Regions from separate parts of the Homo sapiens genome. Here region 1 is linked to region 2. Evidence: fine-mapped QTL for protein levels in blood plasma. Region 2 holds a variant in brackets. A gene starts in the other region. All regions are shown on their reverse strands.

Region 1 (3,016 bases), not on the chromosome of region 2:
GGCCTTCCAAAAGTGTATTGTATCTTGATGCTTTCAGTAGAATGGTTCACCTTATAACCTCTACATGGCAGGATGCATAATCACCAGTTTATTCTGTAATACCTGAGCAAAAATTCAGCCTAGCTAATATGGCCTCTTTCACCACACTGACAAGATAAGGATGACGTCCACTTAGTTGGCCACCACCAGTATCATAATATTAGATAGTAGTTTAAAAATATATAATGGAAACTAGCTGGTGACCACCACTTTACTTCCAGTTTTGAAATTGCTGACTCATCCTATTTAAGAATCTGTTGTAAGCATCATTTAAGAATTAGTTTGGTTTAGACATACTTTGAAGTCAACATAGTTTTTAATGCATGGAATTACATAAAGTCAAATGAACTATATACCCTTGCTACATGCGGTCTTAATAACACTTGAAAAAATTGGCTGGATTTTCATTTAAAAGCCACCTTGAATAATGATTTTATTTCAGTGAAATTCGCTCGTATTTTTTCCAAGTTCCTTCGACATTCTAGATACACTATCGCTTCTCTAAGAGATAACTGGCTGGCGCAGAGTTGGAACCAATACAGACCCAGGCCTGACTGCCAAGCACTGACCATTCCTGCAAATTTCTCTCCCAGAAGACGTGTGCAAGCAAAGAAGAGGGCGATAATTTGATTTTGCAAAGGTAGGGATAGACGCGCACGCACAGACATCTGCACCGGCCCACAATGAGTTTGGGACGGGAGCAGTTAGGAAGTGGGGAGCTGCGGTACCTTTTCTTGGCCTTCCTGAGCTTGACTGGGTGCAGAACTCAGCCCTCAGGGCTGCGGGACAGCGTCTTCTCAGAAACCCGCAGCTTGGCTGGGGCCGCCAGACGCGCGTCCCTCACCCTCCCAGCGGAGCGCGGGGTGCCCGGCCCGCCTTGCGCTAGCCAGCAGCCTGGAACGCCGTAAGAGCGCAGCGCAGTAGGGAGTCGCACGCCAGGGGCAAAGGGACCTGCGATCTGCGCTCCTCCGGAAGCGGGAGGATGGCTAGGAGAGCCTCAGAAGTGTCATTAAAGGAAAAACCAAAAATTGAAGTTGCGGCTAAGTTTTCCCCATGAGAAGGCGGGGCAGCTCGGCCAGTAGGATAGACCGGAGGGTAACGCTGGAGCTGGGAGGGGCCCTGGGCGTAGGCTTTCGGGGAAAATTCCATCGCCCTTTCAACCACCACCACTCCCCTCCCAAGGCAAAGAAGCCGAGCTCTGTACCTCCATCGAGTCCTGGCTGCAGGGTGGGGGGCGACAGCCACCGCAGCCGGGAGGGTGCGGCCACCCAGTTCCCTCCCGGGGGGCGCCGGACTTCGAAGGCAGTGAGCGAGTCAGCTGGGATTCCCCCGGGCGCCTGCCACCCGGAGTCCCAACCCCTGGCGAAAAGAAAAGTGAAAGAGAAAGAGCCGGGAGCATAGGCGAAGACAAACACCTCCCGCGGAGACTGGGGGTGGGGCGGGTGGCGGCGGCTCCTGGATGACTGACTGCCCCAGGTGTCACTGCTTCCCGGCCTGTTTCCGTCCCTGCCGGGGCCTGGGGCGCAGAACTTGCAGGGCAAGCGCAAGGACATCGAGGAGCCCCAGCCCCGCCCTGCAGGAACACCAGCCACCGGTCTCCTCCTCTACCTGCCGGGACACCTGCAGAGAAGGCACAAGGATAGCCGCATCCCAAGCGACGGGCACCATGTGGGAAGCTTCCGCAGCTGAACCTGGAGACCCGGGCTGGGCTGGCGCGCATCCAAGTCTTCCTGAGGAAAGGGAAAAGGATGTCGGATCTGGATGCTGGGCGGCTACTCTAGACCGGCCTCTTGGTCCCCGCACAGGCTGCAAGAAGGAAACTTTGAAGTCCAACTAGGGGAAATGTTGGAAGAAGACACCCGGGTGGCAGCTTTGTGCAAGACAGTTGGTACAGGGAGTGAACTTAGAGCAATGAGCCTCTCTGCGGATCACTTTTCCAGCCTATTGTGTAGTCCAGTGTAAAATATCACACATGGTCCCATTTGATGGAAGCGTGAGATGTTGTTCTTGTAGTATTTTTACATTGGAGGAAGGAACTGAGTTGAGGCTGAGTGATTTGCATGCCATAAAGGCAGTAGCAAAGATCTCACGCTTAGTTTTGAAAGTACTTTGCAGAATCTTGCACTCTTGTGAATCACTGAAAATCCCTCTTGTACGGTGCTTTCCAAATTTTCAGAGTCATGGTTCAGAGAAAATGATGTCTTCCTGGAGCGCAGTTTAATTTAGTTTAAAATTTAATTATGTTTTTAATTACATAAATATGATAAATATCAAATAGAAAAATAATAGAAATTATTCACTTTCCATGTACATAAAGTTCCGTATAATATAATTTCATATTTTTATGAAAAATTTGAGTTTATTTTCATTAACTCAATTTTTTGATATCAGTTTTATATTTGAAATAATTACTGATGGACTTTTTGATGAGAATTACATCAAACTCTAGATAGTCTCCATTAACAAAATAAGTGAGGTATAAAAATGCAAAAACAGTTTTTACAACCATTCAAAATTTCACCATAGTTGGAAATTATATTTAAGAATATGAAGCCATCATCCATTTCTGTTCATGACGATGTCATGTTGAATTTTCTTGTGATGGTGTCAATGGATTTCAAGACCAGTCAGAATTTTTCATAGCAATACATTGAAGCTCTGATTTGCAGAATGAGCATGCACTGGGAGAGCAAGACTGCAGCTGGTTTGGATCTCACCACAAGAATATAGCAGCCACGGAAGGACTGATATGCATATGTGTGAAGATAGAGAATAGGGATGAACAAGTGTATCATGTGTCCCAACCTCATTTTGGACTGTTGCAGAGCTTCCTGGACTCCTGCCATGTAAACTCCTCTAGCACCTCTTTCAGCTCCTTTAATGGATACTGTGTTCTCTGCAGCCGGTGAAGGAAGCAGGTGTCCACGCTCAGCACCACCTAGCAGAGCTCAATATCAGATATTGCTGCTGCCAGAGG
Region 2 (2,500 bases):
ACTGTGTTTTGGCCAAAGGCTGTTCCTAGGGGTAGAAAGCAAGGAGCCGTTTAGGGAGTAGGAGGACTGTCTCCTGGGGCCCAGCAAATGTCACCACTGTGTTTGGCCAAATAGCTTGTTGTTTTCTCTGGAGGCCTGGGGACCACGAGCTGGGGCAGGGAGCCCTCTTGCCTTTGCCCCATCCCATTGATAGTCCATGTTCCCATTGAGGACCCATTCCCAGACGGTCCATCACTTCAGGGCACAGAGAGGTCACCCAGCCTTCTGCTTCTTCCCTCAGGGCGAGCACCTTGGGAGAGGCACGAGAACACACATCTATTCTGGGACCCTGATGGATTACAAGGATGACGAAGGAACTTCTGAAGAGAAGAAGATAAAAGTGATCCTCAAAGTCTTAGACCCCAGCCACAGGGATATTTCCCTGGCAAGTGTCTTCCTCTGAACTCCTCCCCTCCCCTCTCCCGTTTCTGGAGCCAGTGGAACACAATGGGTTGAGAAGAACCCTTGCCCTTCTTGTGGCCCAGTGGTTTTCAAACTTGCCTTTTACTCAGAATTTTTTTCTCCACATATGATCTTAGTGGACCCTGCATGTAGAGTAAGTGAGGTGGGTTGAACAGCTCCTCACACTCAGCCTGTGCCCTCCCTTCCACCCCCAACCCCCACCTTTCCTAAGGACAGGTCCAGGTGGCTGTGCTGTGGAGCCCTAGGACTCTGGCCAAATGGTTCAAAGTTCCTGATACAGTCCATGGCTCTCACCACACAGTCTGGAAAACGAAAGCCCAGAGGAGTAAAAGGACTCACCCAGGATTCTACAGACTATTAGAGTGACACAGTCAAATCTTGAGCAGAGATCGGCTGCCTTCATTTCCCCTTTGTTCCAGCATAGTGCTAAATATGGGTATTTCCCAGAGCTGAAAGGAAGAGAGAGAGGTGGGCATGAGTATCCAGTGGGAAAATTCTTAGCCAGCTTCTCCCACCAGCCCTGCTCTGCATCCTGTTAGGTTTTCTAAATAAACCTCACATCCCTGCCAGGTTGGCCCAGAGAACAAGGCTTGGCAGTGCCTCTGGACAGCCAAGGCCAGAGGATTGATGTTCAGGGCCTGGGGTGGCGACAGTGGTGAGCTTTCCTGGGTCCACTGGCTTTCCCCTCAACAGAGCCCCTGGGGAGCAGCCCCCTGGAGGCTGGCCTGAGACATTCCTATGTCCTGCTCGCCCACAGGCCTTCTTCGAGGCAGCCAGCATGATGAGACAGGTCTCCCACAAACACATC[G/A]TGTACCTCTATGGCGTCTGTGTCCGCGACGTGGAGAGTAAGTGTGTTCTCTTTCAAAGGGGTGGGTGGCCTGGCTGGGGAGCTTGGGTGCTGTGGAGATGGTGGAGGCTCTTCCCACCCTCACGTTGCCCAGGCTTCTTGCCTTTCTTTTTGCAGTTGAGGAGATTGAGGGACTGAGCAGGTCATTTGCTTAAGTTAATAGTGGAGGTGGAACTAAAACCAATTGCTTTTCATTCATTTGTGTAATGTTTTCTTGTCAACGCTGGCCAAGAACCCTACACTGTGCTAGACCTGGGAGGCTGAGGTGAGTGAAATGAGGTCAAGGCCACAAGAGTCAGGCCCAAGGAGCTCTGGGCAGGTGAGCGAGGTGAGCGCACCCCACAAGCAGCAAGACGCTGGCTCCTCGAATGGACTGGCTTCCATTTTAACCACAGGCAGGCTTGGCCCTTTCTTGGTTGTCAAGCCACTGAGCCGGTGGGCCCTTGGGCTGCTGCTGCACACTGAGATGGAGGGGTGGCCTTGGCCTCTGAGTTCCTGACATGTAAGTTTGGAAGAAGAGCGATTTTTTTTTTAACCCCAAGTGACTTCTTCCCTGTGGAATCCAACAATGTGAGCTGTTCCGTGTACTCACACAGGAGTCCTGTTGAGAGGGAAGTTTTGCCGTGTGAGCGGCCTGACCTCTGCATCACAGTGTGTTGTAGAACAGCAGCAGTGGTGGCGGTTGTTCCCAGAGCCCTTGTTCTCTGTGTCAGGCCCTCCGCCAAGGCTTTCCAGGCCTTGTGACATTTAGCCGCCATCTGTTATTACAGATGAGGGAATTGAGGCTCAGAGAAGTGTCACTTGCTCAGTGCCACCGTTTAGAAGAAGAGCTTGGGGTTGAACTTGGCCTTTCCAGCTCTGAAGCCCCTGCACCATTGCACCCCCCAAGGATATCTGTGTACTCTGAGGCCGAGTAGTGTCCACTGAAGTGGACTGTCGTAAGGGGATGAAGGAGAGGACCGTGCCACAGACCAGGTTCCAGACATGGCTATTTTTATGCCTACAGATATCATGGTGGAAGAGTTTGTGGAAGGGGGTCCTCTGGATCTCTTCATGCACCGGAAAAGCGATGTCCTTACCACACCATGGAAATTCAAAGTTGCCAAACAGCTGGCCAGTGCCCTGAGCTACTTGGTGAGAATGTCCTGATGTCCATAATGGTCCCACCAGAAACCAGAGTGTCCTGGGAGG

Which allele goes with the higher level. Positions count from the first base shown, and alleles are read on the strand shown. Strength reflects both the effect of a copy and how common the allele is.
With allele G in place of A in region 2, the plasma level of the protein whose gene starts at base 1,409 in region 1 is lower (weak association).

The links. PIP is the chance, under the fine-mapping model, that this variant and not a neighbour inherited with it causes the effect. Protein levels are from antibody-based Olink assays in UK Biobank. Linkage for the fine-mapping came from a reference panel and not from the study's own genotypes, which makes the PIPs less certain.
Region 1: IL15 starts here. The variant in region 2 is fine-mapped to the plasma level of the IL15 protein (UK Biobank, PIP 0.93).

Annotation. Positions count from the first base shown.
Region 1 is chr4:141,634,976-141,637,991 of GRCh38, reverse strand. It overlaps IL15 (interleukin 15), which reads right to left and starts at 1,409. Exons shown (of 8, transcript NM_000585.5): 1 at 1,244-1,409. RefSeq lists an enhancer at 1,407-1,496.
Region 2 is chr1:64,845,456-64,847,955 of GRCh38, reverse strand. JAK1 (Janus kinase 1) reads left to right here. Exons shown (of 25, transcript NM_002227.4): 13 at 281-424; 14 at 1,220-1,307; 15 at 2,316-2,443. Among named protein-coding and RNA genes, the nearest start is that of RAVER2, 100 kb to the right of the region's middle. RefSeq lists enhancers at 154-1,353, 1,171-1,672. The variant G/A (reference allele first, on the strand shown) is at 1,271.